4 separate regions of the Homo sapiens genome follow, and regions 2, 3 and 4 are each linked to region 1. Evidence: fine-mapped expression QTL. A gene starts in region 1. Each other region holds a variant in brackets. All regions are shown on one strand. Distances are from middle to middle.

Region 1 (8,117 bases):
CTCACTCCTCTGCATCAGCATCAGGCCTGGCCGGCAGTCTCAGGAAAGAGGGCCAGGCAGAAAGAAGGAAGAAACAACAGGACCCTTTTCCCCCCTCGGTCTAACTGAGGCTCTGTCTCTCTCTCTGAGTCTCCCCAGAGGAGGCCTTGACACCTCCACTGGGGTGGGGATCACAGGCAGAGAATAAGGCCAGCATATGGCCTATGCCACCAGGGCTGTGGCTCAGGGTCTACTGCTAGAAACAGGCAACAAGCACCCCCACATACTCACTCGTCTCACAGTGGTTGCCCGCGTAGCCCTTAAGGCACGTGCAGGTGTACGAGGGGAAGACATCTCCTCGCACTTCTTGGGAAATCTCCTCGCATAAACCACCGTTGTGGCAGGGGTTTTTGGAACAGATATCTGGGGACAGAGACAGGTAAGATGAGCAGATGATCAGGAAGGAGCTGGGGACACAGGTGAGAAGTAGCAGATGGGTCCAGCCCAAAAGGACCCTCCACTCAAACTCGCCCATTATCTCTTCCTCTCCCTCTTCCCCCGTGTGCTGGATGGAGCCTGAGTCCGCCTAGAGCCAAGGAAGTCCATGTGTAGGCGAATCGGCCCACATAAGGGAAGCGCCCAGCTTTCCAAGTGGCCTGGGAGTGTCCAGAAAAGTGCTGGCTGACAATGGCAGTGGTGCTGGGGACCACTGCCCACTGGTGGAAGAGCTGGCAGCTGGGGTCTGGAGAGGCAGGCAAGGTCCAGGGCAGGTCTCTTGGCAGCAGTTTGATTGCAAAGGAGGCCCATGAGGACTTTCAGGCAGGGGCAGTGGAAGGAAGCATTGTTCTGGCCCATTGAGCAGGTTCCGCCCACCAATTCAGGCACAGGTTGCAGTCACAGATGTCACCTCCAATGGCAGCCCTGACTCAGGAACAGCACGATGATCATCCAGGAAACACTGGGAGGGCCAATGACCATGCTAGGCCCCCGAGACAGAGAAATCAGATGCAGCGCAGGCCTCAAGAAGCCAAGGGGAAAGAGGCCAGCAAGTCCACAGATGAGGAAGATTGCCCAACGCTCCAGAAGCCTGCATGGACCGTCACTGGAGGCATGATTTCTGCTGGGGAATTAGAAGTTCCCCAGAGGAGGGAATATTTGAGCTGGGTCTAGAAGACAAAGTAAGGGGGGTGCCAGACTGGGCAATGAGTAAAGAATGTTCCAAGAAAAGCAGATGCACAGAGGGTGTGGTATGTTGGAGCACAGTTAGATGCAGCTGGAAGGGTAGGCTGGGGCCAGACTGGGAGGGATCTGAAGAATGACAAGTTTAGTTTTTCATCCCGTAGAGCAGTGGCTTTTAACCTTCCTTCACCCTCCTCACCATTGTCCACCAGGGGGGAGAAAAAATAAAAATAAAATAAAAAACAAGAAACAAGAAACAGAGATTCTCAAGTGTGAGATGGGAGTGGGAAAGTCAGTTCCAATTGCGGGATGAAGAAGGCTGAAAAGGCCCATGTGCAGACATGCCGCTGAGCTCTCCCAGGGTGGGGAGCATCTGGTAGCTGCAGACAGGTCCCTCTGGCTGAAATGCAGAAATCCCACTGAAGAGGGTGAAGGTGGAGAGCAGGAGAGCATGGTGAGAGAGGAAGTCAGGGCAGAGGAGTGAAAAGGAAGGGTGATTTCAGAACCACCAGGGGGCAAGGGCTGGAGAGGCCACCAGGGCTTCTGGATGGGAACCTGGATGACAGATGTACACTATCAGCCCCGGTGGTGGAGAACACAGGAGAAGGAACAGGAGGGCCTGTCCTCAATCCCTTGACTCTGGTGGGTCGGCCGGGCCCAACAGGAGTCCTCTAGCCGACATTAGCATCCCAGAAGGGCTGCCCCAGACCCTACACCCAAATCTGTCATTTGGAGCAAGACATGAGACATCTTTTTGCCTTGGCCGGGCATGGTGGCTCACACCTGTAATCCCAGCACTTTGGGAGGCCGAGGTGGGAGGATCATGAGGTCAGGAGATCCAGATCATCCTGGCTAACACGGTGAAACCCCGTCTCTACTAAAAATACAAAAAATTAGCCGGGCCGGGCGTGGTGGCAGGTGCCTGTAGTCCCAGCTACTTGGGAGGCTGAGGAAAGAGAATGGCATGAACCCAGCGGGCGAAGCTTGTAGTGAGCCAAGACCGCGCCACTGCACTCCAGCCTGGGCGACACAGCAAGATTCCATCTCAAAAAGAAAAAAGAAAAAAAAAAAAACCTTTTTGCCTCCCCCTCAGAGTCACCCATCTAAGGCTGGAGAGTCCTCCTGAAATCTCAAAGCCCCTTCATCCCACTCCAGGGAAGGCAACAACACCATTAATGAGCGATCTGCCCTCAGAGCTCCCCCTCCAGGGGCCTCAGGAGCTTAAAGTGGCTCCCAAGGAGCTATTAGTCATTGGCTTTAAATAGCAGGTAATCCTTCCTCTGACCTGGCAGGCGGGGGCGAGCATTGACACAGACAGAGGCTTGGGTTGGGAATGGACTCTTCCCTCCCAACTGCACCGGCCCTCTCCCTACACTGCTCCAGGGCAAAACGGTCCAGTGGGAAAAAGGGAAAGGGAAAGGTGTACTCTACCCAGCCACGTTACCTGTGTGTAAGATAGGTATGGTGTTTCCTCCTTCTGGAAAAGGCCACATCACCCTGTATAAAAACATCTTTGGGACTTCAGAGTCCTGCTCTTTCGGGGACTTTCCAGTAACATTTGGCCAGAGTTCAGGTTGGGGGGTACAGGGAAGAGTAGAAAGGGGCTAAGAAGATCCAGCTGTCTTTCATGGTGGCCGGGGAGGGCCAGGAGCTCCCAAGTTCCTGGGAGCTTGGAGCACTCTGGAAGCTCTAGCCCCGAGGGTCAGGCAGATCACAGGACATAGGGCTGGGGCTCAGCTGTTACCTACCTTGCTTCAGTCAATCCCATTTCTATGAGAAAATGATGGAGGGGCCACCTAAAGAGTCCTGGCCCTGACTCCCTCCCAGCGCTCCACGGTGAATGGCACGGGGCATCCGCAAGTCCAGCCTGCAAGGGGCCCAGCTGGCCTCCGGAGGCCTCCTGGGAGGCGGAGGAGGACCGGGGAAGATACAGCAGCCGGCCAAGGCCGCGGGAGGGAGGGAGTCAGGAGACTCCCATCAGCAGGCAGCCCTCTTCCAAGCTCCTCGAAGCCTCTGGGTCCCCTCCCGGGCCCCACTTACGGCCTGCGTCCATTGCACCGACTCCCCGGCCCTTCCCTTATGTGACCAGGCACGGACAATTGGGAGCGCAAAAATCCAATGAACTGTCCAGCCAACTGGAGTTGGCAGGGAGATGGCCAGGACAAAGTTATCCAGACAAGACTTATCCATACTAGAGTCCTAGAATCTCCCAGGTGGAAGGGGTTCGAAAGTCAAACGCAGTTCCCTGGCCTCATTTTTCACCAGGGAAAAGAGAGGCCCGACACAGCGGATTCCTTTGTCATTATCTGTAAGCCGCATCCCTGGGGGCGGCAGGGCTGTCACCCGATGTCCCGAGTCCCAGCCCAAAAGCCCCAGCGCAGAGACAGCAGGGCCGCATCCCCCTGTCCCGCCAGGGCGCAGCGGAAGAAGCCGCCCCTCTGCCCAGCCCGGTCCCCGGGGCTTTGTCTAAGTTTGTCAACAGTGGAGGTGGAGGGCGGGCGCCGGGCAAACTTCCGAGCGGCGCGGGGAGGAGGGGCGAGGGGCAGAGGGCGGCGCGATCCACTCACCCAGGGCGACGAGGAGGCTGGGGGCGCAGAGCAGCGCGCCGCACAGCGCGGCCAGCAGGCGGGGGCGCGGCATGCTGCGGGGACGCGGGCGCTGGAATGGGCACGCTGGGCTGCTCAGACCCCGCGGGGTTCTGGCGCCTTCTCCTCTGGGACCGGAATAAATCAGGCGGCTCAGCACCTCCCACTGGCCGTGCGCTCCGCCCAAGCTGGCCAGAGGCGGACTGGGGGCGGGGCTCCGCGGCTGGGAGGGAATTGGTTGAAAGGAATTGGGGGGCGCGGGGGTGGTCCGCGATATCTGCCTCTTCCGCCACTGCCACACCGGCGTCCCGCGTCGTGCCAACGGCCGGGTCACGAGTCTTGAGTCTGTTGGGCGGGAAAAGTTCAGGAGTTTTGTTTTTAAGATTTTTAGACTTGAAAAGATGCTAACTCTTTATTCATAATCAGATAGATGCAAATTAAAACTACAATGAGCATCGTGTTTCCCTTCTCGGATCGGCAAGTATCAAGATGTTAACAAGGTTAGTGGAGGCTGTGGGGAACAGGTCCAAGCATGCTTCGCTGAAGACAGTATAAATTAGTTCAACTTCCCTAGAGGGCTATTTGGTAACACCTATCAAAACGACAAATGCTGACACCTTAAGACCTAGCATTTCCACATAGAGAGATTCATTCTACAGAAACTCCCATGTGCAAAATGACAGATATACAAAGATAGCATAGCAACATTGTCTGAAATGGTAAAATACTAAAAAAAAAAAATCAGCGAAGGTTTCTGTAAAGGGCCTAATAGAAAATGTTCTCTGATATGTAGGCCCTGAGTCTCTGTAGCAGCTATTCATCTCTGCCTTTGTTGCAAGAAAGGCACCATAGACAAAATGCGAGGAAATGGGCACCTGTTTGCCGAAAGGGAATAAAACAAAGCAAGCCTGTCACCGTTGACTTTTTACTAAATGATTTGTACTTATCATGTGCAAATATTACCTGTTTACAAATAAGTGATTTTAATAATAGTGTTTTGGCTGGGTGCGGTGGCTCACACCTGTAATCCCAGCACTTTGGGAGGCCGAGGCACGTGGAACACCTGAGGTCGGAGTTCAAGACCAGCCTGGCCAAGATGGTGAAACCCCGTCTCTACTAAAAATACAAAAATTAGCCGGGCGCAGTGGCAGGTGCCTGTAATCCCAGCTACTCGGGAGGCTGAGGCAGGAGAATCGCTTGAACCCAGGCGGCAGAGGTCCCAGTGAGCCGAGATCATGCCACTGCACTCCAGCCTGGGTGACACAGTGAGACTCTGTCTCTAATAATAATAATAATAATAATAATAATAATAATAATAATAATGCTTCAGGCTGGGAGTGGTGACTCAAGCCTGTAATGCCAGCTCTTGGGGAGGCCGAGGTAGGCATATCACTTAAGCTCAAGAGTTCGAGACCTTCCTGGGCAACATGGCAAAACCCTGTTTCTACAAAAAAAGAAATACAAAAATATTCCAGGCGCATGCCTGTAGTCCCAGCTACTCAGGAGGCTGAGGTGGGAAGATCGCTTGATCCCAAGAGGTCGAGGCTGCAGTGAGCCACGATTGCACCACTGCACTCCAGCCTGGGCAACAGAGCGAGACTGTCTCAAAAAATAATAACAATACTAATACTAATAAGTATTTAAGTCAGACTAGCCAACAAACAAAATAGAACAGTCACACATCTCCCCTCCTAGCTGTGTTGAGACCTAAGTTGGGACTAGAGTCCACTGGCAAGATGCCCTTCTTAAAATATTCAGAAGCGGGTACTGGGCGTGGTGGCTCATGCCTGTAATCCCAACATTTTAGGAGGCCGAGGCAGGCGGATCACGAGGTCAGGAGATCGAGACCATCCTGGCTAACACAGTGAAACCTCGTCTCTACTAAAAATACAAAAAAAAAATTAGCCGAGCGTGATGGTGGGTGCCTGTAGTCCCAGCTGCTCAGGAGGCTGAGGCAGGAGAATGGCGTGAGCCCGGGAGGCGGAGCTCGCAGTGAGCCGAGATCGCGCTACTGCACTCCAGCCTGGACAACAGAGCAAGACTCCGTCTTAAAAAAAAAAAAAACATATATATATATATGGGGAAAAGACATATAGGATCAACTCAATAATCACAGAAAAAGCATTTGATAATATCCAACACGTCTTCGTGATAAAACACTCAACAAACTAGAAGTGAAAGGGAGCTTCCTCAACCTGATTTTTAAAAATCTATGAAAAACCGATGGGTACAGTGGCTCACGCCTGCAATCCCAACACTCTGGGAGGCTTAGGCGGGCAGATCAGCTGAGGTCAGCAGTTCGAGACCAGCCTGACCAACATGGTGTAACCTGGTCCCTACTAAAAATACAAAAAGTAACCAGGCATGGTGGTGCACACCTGCAATCCCAGCTACTCAAGAGGCTGAGGCACAAGAATCGCTTGAATCTGGGAGGCGGCAGTTGCAGTGAGCCGAGATTGCACCCCTGCTCTCTAGCCCGGGTGACACAGTAAGACTCTGTCTCAAAAAAAAAAAAAAAAGTGTGTATATATATATATATATGTATATATATATATATGTGTATATATATATGTATATATATATGTGTATATATATGTGTATATATATGTGTATATATATATGTATATATATGTGTATATATATATACATATATATATGTATATATATGTGTATATATATATACATATATATATATATATGTATATATATGAAAAACCCATAGCTACTATCATACTTAATGGTGAAAAACTGAATGTTTCCCCTAAGCTCAGGAATAGGACATGGTGTTCTGCTCTCATCACTTCTATTTCATCACTGTGCTGGAGGTTCCAGCCAGGACAATTACGCAAGAAACAGAAAATACATCCCCATTGGAAAGGAGGCAGTAAAACTATCTCTATCTCTACTTACAGATGGCATGATCTTGTATATCAAAAACCCTAAAGAGCCAGGCGCAGTGGCTCATGCCTGTAATCCCAGCACTTTGGGAGGCTGAGGTGAGCAGATCACCTGAGATCAGGAGTTCAAGACCAGCCTCAACATGGAGAAACCCCGTCTCTACTAAAAATACAAAATTAGCTGAGCGTGGTGGTGCATGCCTGTAATCTCAGCTACTCGGGAGGCTGAGGCAGGAGAATTGCTTGAACCTGGGAGGCGGAGGTTGCGGTGAGCCAAGATCGCGCCATTGCACTCCAGCCTGGGCAACAAAAGCGAAACTCCATCTCAAAAAAAAAAAAAAAAAAACAACCCTAAAGAATCCACATACACACACACACACACACACAAACACACAACTATTAAAGATAATAAATGAGCTAAGCAAGGTTGCAGGATACACAATTAATATACAAAAATCAGTTGTATTTCTTACACTAGAAATAAACAATCCAAAAACATAATTTTTAAAAATCCCATTTACAATAGGATTAAAAAGAATAAAATACTTAGGAATAAATTTAACAAAAGAAATACAAGACATGGCGGGGCACGGTGGTTCATGCCTGTTATCCCAGCACTTTGGGAGGCCAAGGTGGGTGGATCACCTGAGGTCAGGAGTTCAAGACCAGCCTGACCAACATGGCGAAACCCTGTCCCTACTAAAAATACAAAAAGTAGCCAGGTGTGGTGGCTGGCACCTGTAATCCCAGCTACTCGGGAGGCTAAGGCAGGAGAATCGCTTGAACCTGAGAGGCAGAGGTTGCAGTGAGCTGAGATCGTGCCACTGCACTCCAGCCTGGGTGACAGAGAGAGACTTCGTCTCAAAAAAAAAAAAGAAAAAGAAATACAAGTACGTTGAACACTACAAAACATCATCAAAAAAATTAAAGAAGATCTAAACAAATGGAAAATTATCCCCTGTTGATAGGTTGGAAGACTTGTATTGTTAAGATGCCAGTACACCCCCAAATTGATGTACAGACTCAATACAATCTCTGTCAAAATTCCATCTGCCCTTTTTGCGGAAATTGACAAGTTGATACTAAAATTCATACGGAGGCCTGGCGCAGTGGCTCATGCTTGTAATCCCAGCACTTTGGGAGGCCAATGCGGGAGGATCACAAGGTCAGGAGATCGAGTCCATCCTGGCTAACACAGTGAAACCCCGTCTCTACTAAAAATACAAAAAATTAGCCGGGTGTGGTGGTGGCCGCCTGTAGTCCCAGCTACTCGGGAGGCTGAGGCAGGAGAATGGTGTGAACCTGGGAGGCAGAGCTTTCAATGAACCGAGATCACACCACTGCACTCCAGCCTGGGTGACAGAGCGAGACTCTGTCTCAAAAAAAAAAAAAAAAAAATCACACGGAAATGCAAGGGACCCAGAATAGCCAAAACAATCTTGAGGAAAAAAAAAGAACAACATTGAAAGACTAACAT
Region 2 (8,117 bases), 550 kb before region 1:
GTGGGCAATCCTCCATCCATTACCCTGTTGGTTCTTCCATTTGGCCATCGGTCCCCAGTCTAGGGAGTGCCAGAGGCCAAGGCAACCAGGAGCAGCTGGGGCACCTCCCAGGCCAGCCTGTCCCCTTCCTGCCCACACCAACCAGGCAGCCTCTTCCTCCTGCCCACTGCTTGCACCAGCTTCTCTACCCAGAGAGATGACTGCGTGGGCCCTTGGATTCCACAAGCAACTCAACTCAGGACATTTGATAACCTTAGCCACAGAAGTGAAAAGAGAAAGCAAGGAGAGAGGTGGCGAAGGAGAAAGAGAAAGAGGAAATGAAAAACAGACATCAGTTTATAAAGAAAAAGAGTTTCTGAAGAAGAAAAATCAAGGACAAAGTGAGAAACTCTTCCTTCTTACAATGGATACAATGGATTTTTCCCAAACATGTTAAATTCTTCTCCAGAAACTTGACTGAACTGTGACAAAGAGGTTTTCATGAACTTTGGAGGCAGACAGACCTGGTTTGGACTCCTGGTTCCAGCCTCTGCTTGCCCTGTGGCCTTCACAGCCTCTCTGAAGCCATTTCTTCCCGCCTGTAAAAGAGGAAAATAACCTGTAGAGCAGCTGTGAGAATTCAGTGAGAGATTGGGGCTGAAGAGTCACTCAATGAAATATTTTTTCCTCTCCTTGCTCTCCCACTAGCCCTTTCCCCTTCCTTTGGTTGGACTTGGTTGTTTCCATTGTGGATTTGTCTGTTTCCGCTACCTCTCGGAAGCACCTGACCCTGGACTGCAAGCTCAGGAAAGAAATCTACTGATGAGGCCCCCGGTGATTATAAGTGATCACAGCCTGAGCGAGCAGTCAGCTGAAGATGTTCCGGGCATACATCTGCCTTCAGTGCTGCAGCTCATCCCAGGAGTCTCGTGAGAGATAAATCAGAGGGAGGGCAGAGGGGTGGGGGGCCAGGGTCGGGCAAGCAACAGAGGTATGTGCAGCTTCAGAATACACAGCTCGTAAAGGAGGAAGACGGTGGGAATCCCTGCATCTTGCATGTGCTCATGACAAACGTCAAGGAGGAGGAAAGGGGAAGAATGAGATGGCACAGGCACACACATGTGTGTGAATGCAAGCCTCCAGGACACACTGGCCGAGGGTGTGGGCCCAAGGGATTTTCCCTGCAGTCCAAAGACTGGGCTCCATCCCACTTCCACTATCCTGAGGCTCTTTTCCCTCAGTGGACTTGGTCTCCTCATCTGTAAAGGAGGAAGTCAGAAAAAGGGGCTCTCGTGCCTCTTTGCGCTCTGAGAGTCTGCCACATAGAGACCCCTTCTGTCCAGGACCCCAGATCATGGTGCCGAGGTGACCTTGATAATGTGCTGGGTCTGACCCAGGAAAGCTGGAAGGGTAGGGGGCCAGAGTGCCCATAACACAAAGCATCAGTGAGCGATGGGCAAGACTGACCCAGTGCTGACAGCAGCAGATGTGAGGCTGCTGAAAACTTCGGTGCTTACACATCTGGTGCCAAATATCCTGAACTCCTTGCTTCCTTGTGCCAGAACCCATATTTTACTGAGAAGCCGAAGCATTCAAGGAAGTCAACCTCAGGCCTTCTGTGCCCATGCCTCAGAGATGGGAAAAGGCCCTGGATTAGACTCCAGAGCCCAGCAGGGAAAGCCAGCATCCTAGCAAGAGCAGAACAATAAAGTTAATCATAGCCACCTCCAGTCATTTGTGGGGAGCACAGGAGAGAGGCTTGCATTTCATTCTCCCCACAGCCCCGTGAGGGAGGTGCTATTGAGAGGTGAAGCCAGCTGGACTTCTGGGTCAGGTGCGGACTTGGAGAACTTTTCTGTCTTACAATCCTCTTACAAGAGGATTGTAAAATGCACCAATCAGCACTCTGTAGCTAGGATTATAAAACGCACCAGTCAGTGCTCTGTGGCTTGCTAGAGGTTTGTAAAATGTGCCAATCAGCACTCTGTAAAAACACACCAATCAGCTCTCTGTGGCTAGCTAGAGGTTTGTAAAATGGGCCAATCAGCACACTGTAAAATGGACCAATCAGTGCTCTGTAAAATGGACCAATCAGCACTCTGTAAAATGGACAGATCAGCAGGACATGGGCGGGGATAAATAAGGGAATAAAAGGTGCCCCCCCCACCCCCACCCAGACTCCTGCCGCCAGCCAGCCCCTGTGGAAGCTTCGTTCTTTTGTTCTCCACAATAAATTTTGCTGCTGCTCACTGTTTGGGTCCGCACCACCTCTAAGAGCTGTAACACTCCCCACAAAAGTCTGCAGCTTCATTCCTGAAGTCAGCAAGATCACGAACCCGCTGGAAGGAACCAACTCCGGACACACTATTACTATCCTTACTGTGCAGATGAAGAAACTGAGGCCCCTGCAGATGAAGAACCTCCGAGGCCCCAGATGAGGGCTGTGTGTGTGTTGTGGGGGCAGCAGTGATAGGCGTGGATTCCAGGAGAGGAAGTTAAGTGTCACCTTTTGCTTCTCCTGGTGCGAAGTGGGCTTCTGCCTCTCACCAAGATGCTCCAAGTGCATGAATCCTCCCAGGTAAAAAGAATGTCTGGATGCAGGGTTGCCAAACCAGGGCAAGACCCACATCAGGGCCCAGCCATTTGTTTGTCCCAGTTTGTCATGGCCACAGAGCTCACAAAGGGCTTGCTCAGATGGTCACGTCTTCAAGGTAGTCAGGGCAGGTGGCCACTACTTGGAGGTAGTCAGATAGGATTTCTGGCTCTGGATGGGGAAACTGAGGCTCAGGGGGTGGGGTGGCTTGCCCACAGTCACCTGGCTGGCAGGCTGGCTGGCGTGAAGCAGGGATGAGGACCCCTGGGTCCCAGCGCCAAGAGCAGCACCGTGGCCTCTGTTCTGCACCATGCCTCTCTTACAGCAGGTGCTGCCACACCACCTTTAATCCTGCGTCCCCCAGAACTCCCTGACACCGCCACAGAATGCCCCCTGGGCAACCTAACAACTCCCAGTCTTGGCAGACAGACAAACCAAAATGCAGCAAAGGTCAGAAAAAACTTTCTGCTCCCCTGTCTCTCTCTTCTCACAAGCTCAGCCTCCTTCCCTGACACCCTCTTTTTCACCGTCCCTAAATGTTGGGAAATGACATTGAGGTCATAAAGGGAAGTCACCTGCCACGTGACTTCACCCACTGAGATCTGTGGCTCATGCAGGCATTCTGTGCCAGACCGCCCAGAGATCAAATGTCCACTCCTCAGGAGCTGGGTGACCTTGGTGTGCCATTTAAGCCTCAGCCTCCGTTATGTTGAATGTGAAGCAGTAGAGTAAGTGTCCTCCTCACAGTGCTGTGGTGAGACTTCCGTGAGGTGAGGATGCCTCTTTAAGTATCACCTTGATATGGATGATAATTATTGAAGCCAGCTCATCAGATAAATCTCACTTGGTTTACAAACACGAACACCTTTGCTTTTTTTAAAATTCTCAACACTGATCTCCTCTCTGCCCATGATATAATATATATAGATACAATTATTTTCTTTGGTTACTTTTAGATATTAACAGTTTTTGTGTGTAGTAAAAATCTGGAAAAGTCAGGTAGAAAATGTTCAGTCTAGGTCAGGATCAGTGGCTCATGCCTGCAATCCCAGCACTTAGGGAGGCCGAGGCAGGTGGACCACCTGAGGTCAGAAGTTCAAGACCAGCCTGGCCAACATGGTGAAACTCCATCTCTACTAAAAATACCAAAAATTAGCCAAGCATGGTGGCGGGCTCCTGTAATCCCAGCTGCTCAGGAGGCTGAAGCAGGAGAATCTCTTGAACCTGGGAGGCGGAGACTGCAATGAGCGAAGATTGTGCCATTGCACTCCAGCCTGGGCAACAAGAGCAAAACTCCATCTT[AAAATAAATAAATAAAT/A]AAATAAATAAATAAATAAATAAATAAATAAATAAATAAATAAAGTTCAGTCTCTTATTTGAGCTGAAGCTCCTCCCTTCCCTATTCCTGGAAACTGCACTGGAGAAGGAAGATGTGGTGGCTTTCCTCATTCTCCTTGTATCACCTTCTGCCCTGTTCACTCCTGCTGCACCTGGTTTGTCTAGGAATGGGACAGAGGATGGGAGAGAAGGAAAATAAGGGTCAAAGAAGTTATCAGCCGGGCGCAGTGGCTCACGCCTGTAATCCCAGCACTCTGGGAGGCCCAGGTGGGTGGATCACACAGTCACGAGACCGACACCATCCTGGTGATGGTGAAACCCCTTCTCTACTGAAAATACAAAAATTACCCGGGCATGGTGACACGTACCTGTAGTCCCAGCTACTCAGGAGGCTGAGGCAGGAGAATCGCTTGAACACGGGAGGCGGAGGTTGCAGTGAGCCGAGATCACACCACTACACTCCAGCCTGGGCAATAGAGAAAGACTCCATCTCAAAAAAAAAAAAAGTTATCATGAGTGGTATGGTTGCAGTCTGCCACTGGTGCCCTCTGTAGGGGTTTTGGACGCCCTGCCCTCTGGCTTTGGGGACCTCTCCGCATGATGTCCTTGTGCAGGGAAGTACTTTCAGGCAACTGCCTCACCCCTCCTTCCAGAGCTCACATCCAGTGGCACAATGCATGCAACTTCATTTTGTTGGGGTCCTTCTTGCATGGGCCCCTTTCCAAATGGCTTCAATCCCACCACCCTCTTAAGGCACGGAAAAATTCAACTGGAATCTGGAAGGTCCCCTCCCCCCGCCCTCCCTATTCTTACCAGACAGGCAGCTCTATTTACTTCCAGCCTTTAGATGCTTTTAGGCAAGGGTCGGTCCCTGCCCCTATGCCACGCAAATTCTGGAGGACACAGTGATCTCTCAGCACAGCTCTGTCACCTCATTCTATCCCGTGTCCTGGAGTCCACAGGTTCCTTTCCCTCAGCTGGAAGAGAGTGGTGAGCACCCCCTCCCCTCTCCTGATTAACATCCTGTTGCATTACTAATAGGCACATTGTCTAAGAAGCCATTTTATTAGCCCATCTTTCAACGGAGTCGGGCTGAGCTTACAGTCTCACGAACTCAGGAAGAACATTAGGAAGCTGCAAGCCTCTCAGAAACGTGTCCTCATAACTGCTCTGACACGTCCAGGAGCGTCTCTCCAGCCAGGATCCGTGGAATGAGTACAGCAGGCTGGGGGAGATAGATGAAGCTGGTCTCCTCCTCCTGACAGGTTGTGCTCCGTGTCTACAAGCAGAGACGGTCCTGGGCTCTGGCATGTGAGGATAGAGAGCCCAATGTCAGCAGCAAGACATGCTGGAAACTCTGTGAGGCTTCATCTGCCACAGCACACCTGGTGGTCCTCACAGAGGGACGAGGCCTATGCTTTCCTCCTGTGAAGCAAAGGAGAGAATGGGGACTAAAATGGCAAAATGATGATGATGATGATGATGATTGCAGCCACAGTTTGCTATACTCTTACCTTACATCAGCAGGGGTTACGTGTACTGCCTTATTTAATCTTTGCAGCAACACCCTGAAGTGGTGTGGCAGACAGAATAATGGCCCCCAAAGATGTTCACATCCTAATCTCCAGAACCTGTGAATATGTTATATTACATGGGATGGGGGAATGGTGGATGCAGGGAGGCGGTGGTTAAGGCTGCAGAGGGAATTAAGTTTGCTAATTAGCTGACTTTAAAATAGAAAAATTATCCTGGATTATCTGGATGGGTCCAATGTAATCATAAGGATCACTAAAAAGGAAAGAGAGAGAAGAATATCAGCATGAAGCAATGTGAGAAAAACCAGACCAGCCATTGCTCACCTTGAAGATGGAGGAGGCCATAAGGCAGGACACAAGGAAAGATGGAGAAGCCAAGGAAACGGCTTCTCTTCTGGAGTCTTCATAAAGGAAATCAGCCCTGCCAACACCTCGATTTTAGCCTGGTGAGACCCGTTGAGGACTTCTGACCTCTAGAACTGTAAGATAATTTGTTTTGTTTTGTTAGCCACTACATTTGTGATAATTTGTTGCAACAGCAATAGGAAACTGATACAAATGGGCACTGTTTTATCCAGTTTCAGATGAGAAAGCTGAGGCTCAGAGAGATTAAGTAACTTCCCTAAGGTCACACAGCTAGGAAGGGCAGTGCAAGAATGGGACCTAAGGCTGTCTGACTCCAAATCCGGGGCTTTCAGCACTAGACTGTACTACACTTTGATGAGGGCTGCAGTGTGCCCCCGCTGCACACCTGTCATCTCACTGAGTCCTCACAGCAAGCCCACAAAATCAATATCATGAACCGCTTTGCAGATGTCGAAGCTGGAGCCTCAGAGAAGTGAAGAGACTCAGTGACCTCTCACAGCCAGAACATGGGAAGAAGGGAAGCCCCTGTGATTTGGTTTGAATTTGTGTCGCCTCCCAAATCTCATGTTGAATTGTAATCCCAGTATTGAGGGAGGGGCCTGGTGGGAGATGATTGGATCAAGGGGGCTGACTTCACACTTGCTGTCCTCGTGATAGTGAGTTCTCATGAGATCCGGTTGTTTAAAAGTGTGTGGTACCTTCCGCCTCTCACTTCCTCCTGCTCCAGCCATGTAAAATGTGCCTCCTTCCTCTTTGCCTTTTGAAACGATTGTAAGTTTCCTGAGGCCTCCCTAACCACACGTCCTGTACAACCTACAGAACCGTGAGCCAATTAAACCCCTTTTCTTTATAAATTACGCAGTCTTAGGTAGTTCCTTATAGCAATGCAAGAACAAACTAATCCACCCTGCCTGTTGGGTTTGGGGGTACCCGTATCAGCCCCCCTCTGGCATTCTCCTCAAGCCAAGCCACTTGTTTCATCTGGGCAACATATACTAAATGGCCTACTATGTGCTGGCACCATGAGGGGTCCGAGACCACAGGCCCCGGGTTCTCCACAATCTAGGCTTTCCTACATTGCAAAGGAAATGTCTGCAGCCTTTTTCCATTCTCAGCCTCTGCATCTTGGCCCTAGTATCTGAATCACGGTATCCCACAACAGGTCATGGAGCAGGGCCTCTTATCCTTCTAGTTCAGTTTACATTAGCCCAAAATTCTGGCCCAGAAGGTAAGCTTCTCAGCTGCTGCCATGAGCCTGGTGGTCTCCGGACAGTGGGATCTGATTTTGTTGCATCTGTGTGTTTTTAGGTTCCCTCCCCACACCCTCATATGCAACTCCTTAAGACTTTCCAAGGAAAAAGGATCTGTGCTATTAGCCTCCATGCCCTTCACTGATGGAAAATCTGTCCCTGCGCTCTACCCCAAGGATAAGAGATGCCGGCAGCAGAGGCAGCAGTGCCAGAGAATAATGTCCCTGTAGTGGCTGGACATGAGATCACTACGACAGATGTAAGGTGGTCCTGGGTGGTTTTGGCTTTCCCAGTTGATGCACCCTGTGCAGGCTGTTTGTATTTGTACTCCTGAAAAGTGATAAGGAGGGTCATTCGTTGGCGGGAAGCCCACCTGGCAGATGCCTAACGGGTGGACACTCCTCCTGTTCATCATGGATCTTCAGACCCTCAAAGCTCCAGTGTCTGTGATCAACTGGAAAGAGGCTGTTACAATGACCAGGCCCTCTTGGTCTTCATATCTGGAAAATCTGACCCGGGAAAAGGATTGTTGACTTCCACTCAAAGATGTGGAATCTCCGGACCAAGGAGAGGTCAGAGAGAGGAACCTTACTTGTTCATGAAAAGAAATCCATTGTCATTTATCTGTCTACTGCTTGACGTGCCCCAAAGACCTAGTTTTTCCAGATAAGATAATGTGGTGGCCAGGACTCAGCATTCCATGCCTCTCCTTTTACCTACTTAATCTTAACATTTTGGTTCTAGATTTGGGTCCTAATTCTGGCAAAGAAAAGTAGGGAAGGGGTGGAGGTGCCCCATCTTTTTTTTTTTTTTTTTTTTTTTTGAGATGGAGGCTTGCTCTGTTGCCAGGCTGGAGTGCAGTGGCGCAATCTCGGCTCACTACAACCTCCACCTCCCAGGTTCGAGTGATTCTCCTGCCTCAGCCTCCCAAGTAGCTGGGATTACAGGCACCTGCCTGTAATTAGACACCGAGCTAATTTTTGTATTTTTAGTAGAGACGGGGTTTCACCATGTTGGCCTGGATGGTCTCAATCTCTTGACCTCGTGATCTCCCCG
Region 3 (8,117 bases), 27 kb before region 1:
TGGCCAGGACAAGTGGCCCTGATAGGGATCCGTCGGAGTTTCCTTCCCCACCACACTGGCCAGAGGACAGCACAGCCCTGGCTTTACTCTCTGGTCCAGCTGTCCACCATAACTCTTCCCAAATACGGAGCAGCCTACTGAGCTAAGGGCAGAACTTCTAAAGGAGACTACGCTCACGGCTCAGAGTTACAAATACACACAGAACTCAACATGCAACAAAAGAATCAAGTTCATAGGCTAAGGCTGCCTCATCTTTAACTTGGGAGCCCCTGTTGGGACCTCACTGATTCATTCTCTTGGGTCTAGACTTCAAGACATGCTTGATTTACTCAAGGTGGGGACAGGGGCCAGGCACGGTGGTTCACGCTTATAATCCCAACACTTTGAGAGGCCAGGACAGGAGGATCGCTTCAGCCCAGGAGTTTGAGACCAGCCTGGGCAATAAAGTGAGACCCTGTCTCTACAAAAAAATTTTTAAAACTAGCTGAGTATGGTGGTAGATGCTTGTGGTCCCAGCTACTCGGGAGGCTGAGGTGGGAGTATTGTTTCAGCCCAGAAGTCAAGGCTGCAGTGAGTCATGATCGCACCACTGCATTCCAAACTGGGTGAGAGAGCAAGACTCTGTTGCCAAAAACAAAATAAAAACAAATTAATTAATTAAAAAGGTGGAGGCAAGGGGACAGCCTCATGGGTAAGCAGGAGACAGACAGGGAGGTTCCCTGTAGAGGAATCGTGCTAAAAAAGAGCTATACCTAATGTAGCAGATTGCCATATGCAGAAGTCTCCAAGTGTGGCCCTCGGGCCAGCAGCATTAGCATCACCAGGAATTTGTCAGAAATGCACATTGTGGGGTCCCAGTGCCTCAGAGACTCTGGGAATGGGGTCCAGCCTCCAGGGGACTTTCAGGCTCATTCAGATTAGAGCTGTCCTGCTCTGCAGAGGCAGTAGGTACAGAGGTTTGGAGTCAGGCAATTCGGGCTTGCCCTTGGTTCCACCTTTTCCCAGCTGTGTAATCCAGGGAAGTCAAGACTCAGCTTCCCCATTTGTAGAATGGGTTAATTACAGTCCCTACAGAGGGCTGTGGTAAGGTTCAAATCAGGTAAGGCAGGATGCCTGGCACACAGAAAGTGTCCAATAAATATGAAGCAGGGCTATCATTTAGGGGCCACTTCCTTGGTTCTTCCCAACTCTCTTAAGTAAACTACCTTTGAAGCTTTAACCTGAATAAAATGAAAATGTACATCCATATGATAAAATACTATACAGCCATGTAAAATAATCTGGTAGATGTACATTCAATCATTGACTTAGAAAACGAGTTCTATTCTATGAGGTGATAAGGGAGAATACAAAAATCACATGTATGACATGAGCTGGTTTTTGTTGGAGAAAGTTTTCTAAATCATAAAAGAATGGCTCAGCTAGGTGCAGTGGCTCACGCCTGTAATCCTAGCACTTTGGGAGGCCAAGGCGGGCAGATCACTTGAGGCCACGAGTTCGAGACTAGCGTGGCCAACACGGTGAAGCCCCATCTCTACTAAAAATACAAAAATTAGCTGGGCACAGTGGTGCACGCCTGTAGTCTCAGCTAACTCAGGAGGCTAAAGTGGAAGGATCTCTTGAGCCCAGGAGGCAGAAGTTGCAGTGAGCCGAGATCACACCACTGCACTGGTGTGACAGAGTGAGACCCTGTCTCAAAAAAAAAAAAAAGAAAAGGCTAGAAAGAGATACCTAAAAAGTTAACAGTGGTTCCCCTGGGTGGGGGGATTATATATGACTTTGCTTACATATTCAGGGACAAAAGGGAAAGACAAAAATGAAATGTTGGCCTGGTAGTGTAGTGAAACTATGAGTAGGAAGTTTAAGTTTTTTAAATTCCGCAAATCTCATTAAAGTAGTGCTTGTAGGCCGGGCACGGTGGCTCACGCCTGTAATCCCAGCACTTTGGGAGGCCAAGGCGGGCGGATCAGGCGGTCAGGAGATCGAGACCATCCTGGCTAACACGGTGAAACCCCATCTCCACTAAAAATACAAAAAATTAGCCAGGCATGGTGTCGGATGCCTGTAGTCCCAGCTACTCGGGAGGCTGAGGCAGGAGAATGGCGTGAACCCAGGAGGCAGAGCTTGCAGTGAGCCGAGATCGCGCCACTGCACTCCAGCCCAGGTGACAGAGCGAGACTCTGTCTCAATAAATAAATAAATAAATAAAGTAGGGCTTGTATAACAAAATAAATTCTGAAGGAAAAGGGTGTGGTGGGCTAAATAATGGCCTCCCAAAATACCCTAAATCCTAATTATGTAGCAAAATGGACTTTGCAGATGAGGTTAAACTAAGGATGTCGAGATGGGGAGGGTATCCTGAATTTCCCAGGTGGGCCCTAAATGCAAATGCGCAAGTACCTGTTTAGAGGGAGGCAGAGGGAGATTTGCATATAAAAGAGGAGAAGACCACGTGACCAAGGAGGCAGAGCCTGCAGTGAGGCAGCTACAGCCAAGGAATGCCAGCAGCCACCAGAACCGGAAGAGGCAAGGCAAGAACAGATTCTCCCCAAGAGCCACAGGAGGTACAGTCCTATCCGCACCTCGATTTCTGCACAGTGAAACTAATTTTGGATTTCTGGTGCCTAAAGCAGTGAGAGAATACATTTCTGTTGTTTCAAGCCACCAAGTTTGTGTTAATTTGTTACAGCTGACCTAGGAGACTAATCAAAAGAGGGAAAATGCCTCTGCAGGCACAATCATCTACTCAAAGGCAGAGGGAAAGGTGAGAAACACCCAGCACTGCACTTGCAGGCTCATGTGTCGTCTCTGAACCAGGCTGTGCGCTCTTCATGGCAGGTGCTGGCTATTACTGAGACCAGCCATCTGGTTCGTTCCTTCCACAAACAAGTGGAACAAGTTTGTTGTTGTTGTTTTTGAGGCAGAGTCTCACTCTGTCACCCAGGCTGGAGTGCAGTGGTGTGATCTCAGCTTACTGCAACCTCCTCCTCCCAGGTTCAAGCAATTCTCATGCCTCAGCCTCCTGAGTAGCTGGGATTACAGGTGCACGCCACCACACCCGGCTAATTTTTTGTTTTTTGTGTTTTTTTTTTTTTTTTTGAGACGGAGTCTCACTTTGTCGTTCAGGCTGGAGTGCAGTGGTATGATCTCAGCTCACTGCAACCTCTGCCTCCCAGGTTCAAGCAATTCTCCTGCCTCAGCCTCCTGAGAAGCTGGGATTAAAGGCACCTGCCACCACGCCCGGCTACTTTTGTATTTTTAGTAGAGACAGGATTTCACCAGGTTGGTCAGAATGGTCTTGATCTCTTGACCTCGTGATCCATCCACCTCGGCCTCCTTAAGTGCTGGGATTACAGGTGTGAGTCACCGCGCCTGGCCAATTTTTTGTATCTTTAGTAGAGGGTTTCGGTATGTTGGCCAGGCTGGCCTTGAACTCCTGACCTCAAGTGATCCACTCACCTCAGTCTCCCAAAGTGCTGGGATTATAGGCATGAGCCACTGCACCCAGCCCTCAGCTTTGTCTTTTTAATAGCTGTTTGACCTGGACAACTGGATCAACTCTCTGAGCCTAGTTTGCTCATCTATGAGAAGGGATGATAATAGAATCTACTTTCAGGCTGTGAGGGCAGACAGCATCAATTCAGCCTGGTCAGCACCCGTGCTGCACTAATGGTTAAAAATGTGTATTTTCGGCAAGGCTCGTTGGCTCACGCCTGTAATCCCAGCATTTTGGGAGGCTGAGGCGGGTGGATCACCTGAGGTCAAGAGTTCAGGACCAGCCTGGCCAACATGGAGAAACCCCCATTTCTACTAAAAGTACAAAAATTAGCCAGGTGTGGTGGCAGATGCCTGTAATCCCAGCTGCTTGGGAGGCTGAGGCAGGAGAATCGCTTGAACCTGGGAGGCAGAGGCTGCAGTGAGCCAAGATCGCGCCACTGCACTCCAGCCTGGACAACAAAGTGAGACTCCATCTTAAAAAAAAAAAAAAAAAGGTATATTTTCACCCTTGCCTACATCAGGGCTTTTGTGATTACAGGAGACGACATATGCAAAATATCTAGAAGCGCGCCCAACCCATGTTGGGTGCACAATAACTGCTACTTTAAAACGTTCCCTGCCCAAGGCCACACAGCTAGTAAGAGGTAGAATTATAAGATTCAAACTCGGGCCAGGCATGGTGGCTTATGCCTGTAATCCCAGCAATTTGGGAGGTCGAGG[C/A]AGGTGGATCACCTGAGGTCAGGAGTTCAAGACCAGCCTGGCCAACATGGTGAAACCCCTTCTCTACTAAAAATACAAAAAGTAGCCAGGCATGGTGGCACATGCTTGTAATCCCAGCTACTCGGGAGGCCGAGGCAGGAGAATCGCTTGAACCCGGGAGGCAGAGGTTGCAGTGAGCCGAGATCGTGCCATTGCACTCCAGCCTCGGCAACAGAGTGAGACTTTATCTCAAAAACAAACAAAAAAAACATTCAAACTCACATCTATTCGACCCCAGGTCCCCTTTCCACTGGGGGGACCAGGGGAGGACACATTCAAGCTGGACCTTGAACAACTGGCAAGACTTTTAGGGAAAGTAAAAAGCCTAAGTGAATTGGGCCCCATGACGAAGGGGCTGGCGAACACAGGAAAATGAACTCACCCCTTCCCCTGTCTGAGAAGCAAGCTGGCCCACTACAAGGGCCCTGCTGGAACAGGGCTGCTGTCCCTGTCCCAGCCTGGAACCCTCAGATCACAGCAAGAGCCAAGGAGGTCTAGGTCACCCAGGGGAGCAAAGAGCCGGGTGCAGGAGGTCGCCTACCTTTGCCATGACCGTTGCCTAGGTTCTGGTCGTTGGCGCTGTTGGAGTAGTAGAAGCCGTTGTAGAAGGGCAGTCCGTAGGAGCCGGGCAGCAGGAGCAACGGGACCAGGAGCAACAGGCCCATCTCCTCATGCCAGGGTGACCCGGGCCAGGCTGGGGCCCCAGGGCAAACTGGGAAGGGGAGGAAAACAAGGCAATTAGAAAAGCCTGGCTTCCAGGGCCCACATCCCCTCTGCTCCAACACCACTCACTCGCTTGCTCAACAGCTCACTGCGGGACACCTGCCGCCTACGTGCCAGACGCTGTTCCCGGAGCTGAGAAGACAGCAGTGACAAGCTAGATGGGGTTCCTGCTTTCAGGGAGCTGTACCCCGAAGGCAAGACGGGAGATCAGCAAAGAGACAAATCATAAGAAGGAAGTATCAGGCAGCTAAAAGCAGAGAAAATTAAGCAGGATGATATGACAGGCTCAATGTTTTTCAAGCCAGAATTTGAAAGGTTATGGGCAGGCTGGGCATGGTGGCTCACGCTTATAATCCCAGGACTTTGGGAGGCTGAGGCGGGCGGATCACCTGAGGTTGGGAGTTTGAGGCCAGCCTGGCCAACATGGAGAAACCCCGTCTCTACTAAAAATACAAAATTAGCCAGGCATGGTGTCACATGTCTGTAATCCCAGCTACTCGGGAGGCTGAGGCAGGAGAATCGCTTGAACCCAGGAGGCAGAGGTTGTGGTGAGCCAAGATCATGCCATTGCACTCCAGCCTGGGCAACAAGAGTGAAACTCTATCTCAAAAAAAAGAAAAAAGAAAGAAAAGAAAAGAAAGGTATGAGCAGCACTTTTTAATGACGCCAAATAAACTAGACTAGAATAGAAAATATCAGGGTGAATAGAGGGTATGTTAAGTAAAGATGAGTCCTGCATTGTGAACCCTTTTTTTTTTTTTTTGAGACAGAGTCTCGCTCTGTCGCCCAGGCTGGAGTGGAGGTTGCTCACTGCAACCTCCGCCTCCTGGGTTCAAGAAATTCTCCTGCCTCAGCCTCCCGAGTAGCTGGGACTACAGGTGCGTGCCACCAAGCTCAGCTAATTTTTTGTAATTTTAGTACAGACGGGGTTTCACCGCGTTAGCCAGGATGATCTCAATCTCCTGACCTAGTGATCAGCCCGCCTCGGCCTCCCAAAGTGCTGAGATTACAGGCATAAGCCACTGCGCCCAACTCAAAAATAATTTTTGAACACCATGCTAGAGGTCTTGGGAGCTATTCCAGTTTGGGTGGGCGCTCAAAAGAGGTAGCCAACCCATGGGCTGTAGTTTGATGATTTGATTTTTTTTTAAATATTGTATTCAAATATTTTGTCTTGATTACTAAGATTTCTAGCAAACTCCCTTCCTCCCCCGCTTAAATCTCACACCAAGGGCTACTGCCTCACTCATGTCACCCTAGCCCTGCTCACCTGCCATTTACTGCGTGCTCTCAACAATTAAAAGATGGGGTCACTCCTTGAAGGAGCTTGGTCCAGGGAGGGGGCAGAGTCGTGGGCAGGCAGTCTTGATTGCTGTGTGTTGAGTACCACGATGGAGGTACAGAAACGGGAATGTCCAAATGAGACTGAAGATGCAGGAGTTTGCCAGGTGGAGAAGGACTGACAGGTTTATCCAGTAGGGCACTGCCACTACAAAGGTGCAGATGCCAGCAAGAGTCCCAAGCCTGGGGGTGCTGGGGGTATACAGGAGGTCCTCCATTTGCCCCACACACCCACCAGGTCCATCGTCTGTCCTTCTCTGACACGTATTGGTCCCTGTTGTCCCAGTTCCCCAGGCCTTCTGGCTTCCAGTGGGATTGAGCCAATGGGAGGCACTCAGAGAAGATGGCAGAGAGGGAAGAGGAGGAAGACGGGGCATTGCTTCCCAGCTCCCTTGCCACCCCAGTGCCTCTGCCATAGAGTGTCTGCTGCTGCTGCTGGCCTCTGCGTCCCCCACTTCCTTGTTGGGTCCCCTCACCCTACTCTCTAGAAGTCATTCCTCCATTAAAGTCTCTTTATTGGAATCATCTGGGCTGAATTCTGCTTCCTGCCAAGACCCTGGCTGCATGGGGGAGAGGAGGTAAGGGGGTCACCAGGGCCAGCGTCTGGATGCCTTGGGTGTCAGGCCCAGAAGCATATCCTGTTTTGTTTTTTTTTAAAGATAGAATCTCACTCTGTTGTCCAAGCTGGAGTGCCGTGGCAAGATCTGAGCTCACTGCAACCTCCGTCTCCTGGGTTCAAGTGATTCTCATGCCTCAGCCTCCCGAGTAGCTGGGATTACAGGCATGCGCCAACATGCCCCATTAATTTTTGTATTTTTTGTAGAGACGGGGTTTCACCATGTTAGCCAGGCTGGTCTCGAACTCCTCGCCTCGAGTGATCCGCCCACCTCGGCCTCCCAAAGTGCTGGGATTACAGGCATGAGCCACCACACCTGGCCAGAAGTCTATCCTTTGTCCTGGAGGCCAGTGATGGCTTTAAGCAGAGAAGTCACAGGATCAGACTCACATCTTAAGACACTTCCCTGCAGGGGCTGAGTGGAAGGTAGACCTGGGGGCAGCAAGACCAGAATGACAGCAGGCAGCTGCAAACATAACTATGATTATCATGTAGCAACGTGGAAGAATGCTTAGGGTGTAAGTTAAAATAGACAAAGCAGAACATACAATTGCCTCTGCTATGATTGCAACCATGTGGTCTTGTGAATGCCTGTGTACAGGACCCAGAAGATGAGGAAACACTTAAAGAGGAAGGGAGGGAGGACAGAAGGGAGAAAGGAAGGAAGGAAAGAAGGAAGGGAGGGAGGGAGGGAGGGAGGGAGGAAGGGGAGGAAGGAAGGAAAGGAAGGAAGGAAGGAAAGGGAAGGAGGGAGGAAAGGAGGCAGGCAGACACACACAGCATTGGCTTGTTAGAGTGATGGGATTGTGGAGGAAACATTCTTGTTTCCAGAACAGTTAGGAGCTCTTGCTGGAGAGAATGGATGTAAAGAAAGTTGAGAGGCCAAATCCACCATTCCCTTAGACACCACAGAAATCCCAAGGCCCAGACCTGCCATCTGTGCTGTGCACTGCAGCCAGGACACTACCAACTCTGAAACCCCACTTCTTGTCCAAGAGGAATTCATTCCCCTGTTGATTCCTGTAAGCCCCCTTGGTGATGGAGAACTGGGAGGCCTAAGCACAATGGGGCAACCTGGTACAGAGTTTGGGAACTGGAAGATCAGAGTTCAAATCCCACCTCTACTATTTATTCACTGCGAGATTCTGGGCAAGTTTCCTCGGTTGCGAAATGGAGATCA
Region 4 (8,117 bases), 27 kb after region 1:
TACCCTAACCTTAGAAGAGGAACTGTCTGAGGCATGGGTCGTGAGCCAGGTTCATTTCCCAGTACACCCTCAAGTCTAAGTCTAGAATCTAGAATCTAGATTAATGCCTGGGGGGCTCCTGCCAGGGAGTGTGGTGGCCTTTGGCCACATGAGCTTTGGTGCATGAAGTCCAGACCCCTTCAAAATCTCACAAGCAAAGTGAGTTGCAGATCATTTTTCTGATAATCCAGCTTATATTTGCTGAATCAGACACCCACCTATTTCCAAAGGGCAAACTTTCCTTCTCAGAAATAGTACTGCTTAACCCTAAAAAGGAAAGGAAACCATTCGTAAGAGCCCTATAGTTTGTAAGGCAACCTCTCCAATCCTCAGCTAATACTTCACTCACCCTAGGGCTTGCCAGGAACAAGAAAGAGTCCCAGGTTGAGCCAAGACTTCTTAAAGGCTGCTGTCAGCTACACACACAAAGAAACGGCAGAGGCTTTGAAATTACCACTTATAAATGCACAATTGCATTCATGGGCTAGCGGGTGGGGGCTGGCTCTTCTTCTATGCCACTATCTGGAGGTGGAAAATAGGGGGAAGTTCATTCTTCCCTTGATCTTAGCATTTGGGCAGGTAAAGTTGAGGTGCTTACGCCATCTAGGCAGTTGAAAATAAAGCTCCAAGGAGTAGCCAGGAGTGGTGGCTCACACCTATAATCCCAGTACTTTGGGAGGCCTAGGCAGGCGGATCATGAAGTCAGGAGATCGAGACCATCCGGGCCAACATGGTGAAACCCAGTCTCTACTAAAAATACAAAAATTAGCTGGGCATGGTGGCGTGTGCCTGTAATCCCAGCTACTCAGGAGGCTGAGACAGGAGAATCCCTTGAACCAGGGAGTCAGAGATTGCAGTGAATTGATCCCTACAGATAGATGTGAAAACCATCAGCTGTAAAATGGCAGCCCATGCTATGGAAATGGGGGTGTTCCTATGGGGGCAGACACAAGGAGAAGGCAGAACCTGTTTTCCCCACTCAGCTCTGCGAGGATGTTCTCCCCTGTAAACCAAAAAGTATCTGAGATGGGTCTCAATTAATTTACAAGTTTATTTTTCCAAGATTAAGAACATGTCCTTAAATTGATTGAGACCTGTCTCAGATATTTTTCGGTTTACAAGTTGGCAACCAACAGAAGGGACTCTGAGTGGCAGTGGCCCGGATGTTTGACAAATCTCCTTTCAGTGCTTGGCACCAGCTTGGGCTATCTTGATTGCTCAAACCAATAGAACAATTCTCTAAGGCCTGGGACCTTCCCCCCTCCATAGAACCTCTGATCCAAATGTTGATTGAGATCTAAGATTTATTTTGGGCTGGGCGCGGTGGCTCACACCTGTAATCCCAACACTTTGGGAGGCCAAGGCGGGCCAAGAGGAGGTCAGGGGTTCAAGACCAGCCTGACCAACATGGTGAAACCCCGTCTCTACTAAAAATACAAAAACTAGCTTGGCGTAGTGGTGCACACTTGTAATCCCAGCTACTTGGGAGGCTGAGGCAGGAAAATCGCTTGAACCTGGGAACTGGAGGTTGCAGTGAGCTGAGATCACGCCACTGCACACCAGCCTGGACGACAGAGCAAGACTGTTGAAACAAATAGGTTATTTAAGAAAGACAAGGAGTTTTCAGGAGAACAAATAGGAGATAGGAAAATGTGTGATAACGTTTGTCTATATATGTATGAGTGGGCCTTCTGTCTTCTTCAAGACCATAAAACTCTCCCAGAGAAGGGATTTATGGCACATTTGCTGTATGTAAGATTCATTCTGCTGTATGCCTCTTCTGGAGTTTTACTTGCTTCCCAACAAGGAAGGTGAGTTTTCCTGCTTCCATGATAATGGAAGGCAGGCAACTCCTTTCTGGGAGTCTCAGCTCATTTCCAACAGGGAAGGCAAGTTTGAGTCTTCTCCTGCTTCTAGGATGGTAGCAGTTTTCAGCCTGGGCCCCATTCTTAGGTAAGTAGCTGAATTGGGGTTTTCTCTAGGAAATTCTTTTTTTTTTTCGAGATGGAGTCTCGCTGCTCTGTCGCCCAGGCTGGAGTGCAGTGGCGCAATCTCAGCTCACTGCAAGCTCCACTTCCCGGGTTCATGCCATTCTCCTGCCTCAGCCTCCCGAGTGGCTGGGACTACAGGCGCCTGACACTACGCCTGGCTAATTTTTTTGTATTTTTAATAGAGACGGGGTTTCACCGTGTTAGCCAGGATGGTCTCGATCTCCTGACCTCCTGATCCGCCCGTCTTGGCCTCCCAAAGTGCTGGCATTACAGGCGTGAGCCACCGGGCCCGGCCAGGAAATTCTTTTTAATGACTAAAAGTTAAGATTAACAGCCAGCTGGTCTTAATTTCTCCTTACCATTAGAGTGCTGAGTAATCATATGAACTGTGCAATTGTTTGTTTCTCTTAGCTTATTTTTGTTCATTTGTTTCTTTCTGTTTTTGTTTTTTTGTTTGTTTGTTTGTTTCTGCATGGCTCTTGTATCAGTTCGAACCTCGAGAGTCGCCAACAAACAACACAAGGCGGTGTAGAGCAACACAGTTTTAAGGCGCACCGCGTGGGGGCAGACAGGCTGAGGCCTAAAATGGCTCAGCACCTAAGGAGGATGGGGCAGAGATTTTATAGTCTCCTGTAAACAGGAAGTGTCTCAGTCTGATGTAACTGCTACGCCGTACCCGGACAGCCTTTCTCTCGGTCTTCAGGGGGTACCTGCCTTCCAGCCAGCTAGCTTGCTTCCTGCTTCTGTTATCTTGCTGACGCATGCCGCTGGCGCAAGTGGTCTTTACTTTGGGACTGGGCCTGAGAAGGGCAGAGTTATTCACCACCCTCCACCACCCCCAGCTTCCAGGCCCAGGGTAAAGTCAGTTTCCATCTTTTTCCCATTGGGTTTGACCAACTCTACCTGACTTGGTCAAATCCAAAGGAAAGTTCCAAATCATGGGAAACAAGGTCTCTGAATTTGCGAAATCCCTGCAGCTGAAAAAAAAAGAAACAGAAAAAAAGAAAGAGAGAGGGAGAGAGAGAAAGAAAGAA[T/C]GAGAGAATGAAAGAACGAGAGAGAGAGAGAGAGAGAGAAGGGAAAGGGAAGGGGAAGATTTTGACTATCTGAGGAGTTTTATTTACATGACAAGGCCACCTTTTGCTAGCCAAGCCCAAACTGACAGAGCAATGGCAGCTGTCCGTGCTGTAGTTCTGTAGCTATGATTCTGCCTCTTGTTTTTTACATGGTGACAGCCTGGGTTTGGTTCCTAAGTCAAGTCCTTTCTAATTTGATATTTGTGTTACTTTCAAACTATCAGCAGTTTTTCCCAGCAAAAATATGATAATAGGAGATTTAAAAGGATTTTTTAAGAGCTCAATGGTTAAGTCAGCTTAACTAAAAGCTAATATCTAAGATATATATACACACACACATATAAGCATATATATATACACACACACTTTTTTCTCTCCTAGGTTCTTGATTTTTGAGAAAAAGGTTTTTTTCTTCTCAATCCACTGAATTCTGTTTTGTCCATTTACTTCTGCCTGTCTCTCCTTCCTCTTACCACCCTCTGCTGCATGAAGGACATAAATAGTTCCTAACAGCCTAGGATTCCTTTAAGAAAACAGAGAAGGCGCCAGGTTTCTTTTTGGGAGAAACCTCTGTTTTTCCTTATGGAACCCCAAGAGTGTAAACAGACAAGTTCCTCTCAGATCTGTAAACCAAAAGTATCTGAGACAGGTCTCAATCAGTTTAGAAGTTTATTTTGCCAAGGTTAAGGTCGAGCCTGTGACACAGCCTTAGGAGGTCTTGAACAACATGTGCCCAAGGTCATAGGGCTACAGCTTGGTTTTACACATTTCAGGAAGGCATAAGATATTAATCAATACATATAAGATGTACATTGGTTCAGTCCAGATTCAGAGAGAGTAGATCGTAAATGTTTCTTATCAGACTTAGAAAGTGTTATTATCAGACTGTTCTATCGGTCTTAAGGTCTGTGTTGATGTTAGTGCTGGTCAGCGGTGCCTGAATTGCAATGGTCAGAGGGTATAATAGGGCATGTCTGACTCCTGCTTCCCATCATGGGCTGAACTAGTTTTTCACTTTCATTTTGGAATGCCCTTGGCCAAGAGGAATGATCATTCAGTTGGGTGAGGAGCTTGGAACTTTATTTTTGGTTTACAGATCTTCAACTGCTTGTTCTTATGTTACCTGATCTTTTTTTTTTTTTTTTTTTACCAAAATCGTGATTACCCTGTACAGGGGTTACTCTTGCATATTTTAAGATAATAAGTGGTGTGGTTTTTTTTTTTTTTTTTTAATTTATTTTTTTATTGATAATTCTTGGGTGTTTCTCACAGAGGGGGATTTGGCAGGGTCATGGGACAATAGTGGAGGGAAGGTCAGCAGATAAACAAGTGAACAAAGGTCTCTGGTTTTCCTAGGCAGAGGACCCTGCGGCCTTCCGCAGTGTTTGTGTCCCTGATTACTTGAGATTAGGGATTGGTGATGACTCTTAACGAGCATGCTGCCTTCAAGCATCTGTTTAACAAAGCACATCTTGCACCGCCCTTAATCCATTTAACCCTGAGTGGACACAGCACATGTTTCAGAGAGCACAGGGTTGGGGGTAAGGTCACAGATCAACAGGATCCCAAGGCAGAGGAATTTTTCTTAGTGCAGAACAAAATGAAAAGTCTCCCATGTCTACTTCTTTCTACACAGACACGGCAACCATCCGATTTCTCAATCTTTTCCCCACCTTTCCCGCCTTTCTATTCCACAAAGCCGCCATTGTCATCCTGGCCCGTTCTCAATGAGCTGTTGGGCACACCTCCCAGACGGGGTGGTGGCCGGGCAGAGGGGCTCCTCACTTCCCAGTAGGGGCGGCCGGGCAGAGGCGCCCCTCACCTCCCGGACGGGGCGGCTGGCCGGGCAGGGGGGCTGACCCCCCCCCACCTCCCTCCCGGACGGGGCAGCTGGCCGGGCGGGGGGCTGACCCCCCCACCTCCCTCCCGGACGGGGCGGCTGGCCGGGCAGAGGGGCTCCTCACTTCTCAGTAGGGGCGGCCGGGCAGAGGCGCCCCTCACCTCCCGGACGGGGCGGCTGGCCGGGCGGGGGGGCTGACCCCCCCCACCTCCCTCCCGGATGGGGCGGCTGGCCGGGCAGGGGGCTGACACCCCCACCTCCCTCCCGGACGGGGCGGCTGGCCGGGCAGAGGGGCTCCTCACTTCCCAGTAGGGGCGGCCGGGCAGAGGCGCCCCTCACCTCCCGGACGGGGCGGCTGGCCGGGCGGGGGGGCTGACCCCCCCCCACCTCCCTCCCGGACGGGGCGGCTGGCCGGGCGGGGGGCTGACCCCCCCACCTCCCTCCCGGACGGCACGGCTGGCCAGGCGGGGAGCTGACCCCCCCCACCTCCCTCCCGGATGGCACGGCTGGCCGGGCGGGGGGGCTGACCCCCCACACTCCCTCCCGGATGGGGCGGCTGCCGGGCGGAGACGCTCCTCACTTCCCAGATGGGGTGGCTGCCGGGCGGAGAGGCTCCTCACTTCTCAGACGGGGCAGCTGCCGGGCGGAGGGGCTCCTCACTTCTCAGACGGGGCAGCTGCCGGGCAGAGGCGCTCCTCACATCCCAGATGGGGCGGCGGGCAGAGGCGCTCCCCACATCTCAGACGATGGGCGGCCAGGCAGAGACGCTCCTCACTTCCTAGATGTGATGGCGGCTGGGAAGAGGCGCTCCTCACTTCCTAGATGGGATGGCGGCCGGGTGGAGACGCTCCTCACTTTCCAGACTGGGCAGCCAGGCAGAGGGGCTCCTCACATCCCAGACGATGGGCGGCCAGGCAGAGACACTCCTCACTTCCCAGACGGGGTGGCGGCCGGGCAGAGGCTGCAATCTCGGCACTTTGGGAGGCCAAGGCAGGCGGCTGGGAGGTGTAGGTTGTAGTGAGCCGAGATCACGCCACTGCACTCCAGCCTGGGCACCATTGAGCACTGAGTGAACGAGACTCCGTCTGCAATCCCGGCACCTCGGGAGGCCGAGGTTGGCGGATCACTCGCGGTTAGGGGCTGGAGACCGGCCCGGCCAACACAGCGAAACCCGGTCTCCACCAAAACCAGTCAGGCGTGGCGGCGCGTGCCTGCAATCGCAGGCACTCGGCAGGCTGAGGCAGGAGAATCAGGCAGGGAGGTTGCAGTGAGCCGAGATGGCAGCAGTACAGTCCAGCTTCGGCTCCGCATGAGAGGGAGACCGTGGGGAGAGGGAGAGGGAGACGGAGCGGGAGAGGGAGAGCGAGAGGGAGAGGGAGAGCTGCATTCCTTTTCTTAAAGTTCTTAAGTGATATACTCAAGATGGAGTACTCTGTAATGATCTGGCCCCAACTGACATTTTCCAGCTCACCTTCTGACCCTTCTGGACATGCCCTGACCAAGTTACCTCAATGTTGTGTTCCTGATACAATATCATGTCATTATCTTCCATACTTTTGTCTCTTTGCATATGTAATTCCTTTTGCATAGAATGTGTTTCCCTTGTCAGCCTGGCTGGCTTAAGACAATTGAGATCTAGGAAATTTGCCATAACTTCCTTCGGCAGGTTTGAGGTAGTTTTCTCTTATTTTCCCATACTGGCCAATCTATAGAAATTATGATAATAATGTATTACATGTATACTATACGCTAGTCCCTCTGAGGCTAATTATTAGTCTATGTAGATTGGCATCTCAGTAAAGAAATTGAGCTGAAGAGAGGTTAAGTGACTTCCTGAAGTCTTCATGGTTAATCCCTTTCCAGTGTCAGGTATCAAACCTAGGTCTCATGGCCCAATGGTGCGATCTCGGCTCACCTCAACCTCCGCCTCCCTGGTTCAAGCAATTCTCCTCAGTGGTGTGGTTTAAACACTTAGAGAAATATCTTTGTAACAGTGCACCGTTAAGCACATTACATGGCCTAGTCCCATGATGTCACTCTGTTTGGAGAACTAGGATTCAGTGTGGGCTCCACCCAGAGCTCAGAGGTCCAGTTAAAAGATAGAGAGTAAATTTAAAACTACCTATCTAAACAAAATTTGTCTCCTTATCAAATCCTATGGTATTTTTCTATCATTTTATGTTTGGCTTGGTATCCGTTTTTAATCTCCTGCTAACACACCTAGACTTCGTCTGTACTTTGAGATGTAAATTTCACTCTCTGATTTTCACTTAGAGTTGTTCCTTTGGTATGCAAATTTAGAGCTATCTAGCTGACAATTGCCTAGGGAAATGACACGGATTATCAAGAAATTAGAACTCTAAAATAGGAGACTGAAAAGGGGAGTCTTATGAATCTATGAGCTTCTATCTGCATGTCTAATAAGTCCATGTATTTATGTGTCATGTATATGATGTTTCACTACCAAAAATATATAAAAGAGCTCTAATTAATTGACTTTTTTAAAAAAGCTCTTAAATACTTTATCAGGGCCAGGCATGGTGGCTCACACCTGTAATCCCAGTACTTTGGGAGGCCAAGGTGGGTGGATCACCTGAGGTCAGGAGCTCAAGACCAGCCTGACCAATACGGAGAAACCCCATCTCTACTAAAAATGCAAAAAATTGGCCGGGTGTGGTGGCGTATGCCTGTAATCCCAGCTACTCGGGAGGCTGAGGTAGGAGAATTGCTTGAACCTGGGAGGCGGAGGTTGCAGTGAGTCAAGATCGTGCCATTGCACTCCAGCCTGGGCAACAAGAGCAAAACTCTGTCTCAAAAAAAAAAAGAAAAAAAAAAAACTTTATCAGAAAAATAGGAACTTTAAGCCCAAATGCTTTCTCAAGTTCATGTGACTTAAGTAAATCCTTAATAAGCTGGTTTTAATTGATAAAATTAGAAATGTCTTCAGAATTCTTAACATACATTATTGTTTAGATTCGTTGGTCAAGTGGTTTCATATTTATCTCTCCTAAATATTATAAGGTGTCAGTCAGACATGGTGGCTCATGCCTGTAATCCCAGCACTTTGGGAGGCTGAGGTGGGCAGATCACCTGAGGTCAGGAGTTTGAGACCAGCCTGACCAACATGACCAAACGCCATCTCTACTAAAAATACAAAAATTAGTTGGGAGTGGT

The links. PIP is the estimated chance that this variant, and not a neighbour inherited with it, causes the effect.
Region 2: its variant is fine-mapped to the expression of MFGE8 in monocytes (Schmiedel 2018, PIP 0.95).
Region 3: its variant is fine-mapped to the expression of MFGE8 in whole blood (TOPMed, PIP above 0.99).
Region 4: its variant is fine-mapped to the expression of MFGE8 in whole blood (TOPMed, PIP 0.98).

The regions. Positions count from the first base shown.
Region 1 is chr15:88,909,522-88,917,638 of GRCh38, forward strand. It overlaps MFGE8 (milk fat globule EGF and factor V/VIII domain containing), which reads right to left and starts at 3,858. Exons shown (of 8, transcript NM_005928.4): 1 at 3,726-3,858; 2 at 271-402. The coding sequence starts at 3,798. RefSeq lists an enhancer at 3,068-3,599.
Region 2 is chr15:88,364,462-88,372,578 of GRCh38, forward strand. It overlaps LOC105370959 (a long non-coding RNA gene), which reads left to right. Exons shown (of 3, transcript XR_932590.1): 3 at 1-195. Among named protein-coding and RNA genes, the nearest start is that of MRPL46, 99 kb to the right of the region's middle. The variant AAAATAAATAAATAAAT/A (reference allele first, on the strand shown) is at 3,875.
Region 3 is chr15:88,882,377-88,890,493 of GRCh38, forward strand. It overlaps HAPLN3 (hyaluronan and proteoglycan link protein 3), which reads right to left. Exons shown (of 5, transcript NM_178232.4): 2 at 4,799-4,969. The coding sequence starts at 4,922. Among named protein-coding and RNA genes, the nearest start is that of HAPLN3, 9.1 kb to the right of the region's middle. RefSeq lists an enhancer at 2,886-3,597. The variant C/A (reference allele first, on the strand shown) is at 4,219.
Region 4 is chr15:88,936,421-88,944,537 of GRCh38, forward strand. No RefSeq gene overlaps it. Among named protein-coding and RNA genes, the nearest start is that of MFGE8, 27 kb to the left of the region's middle. The variant T/C (reference allele first, on the strand shown) is at 3,065.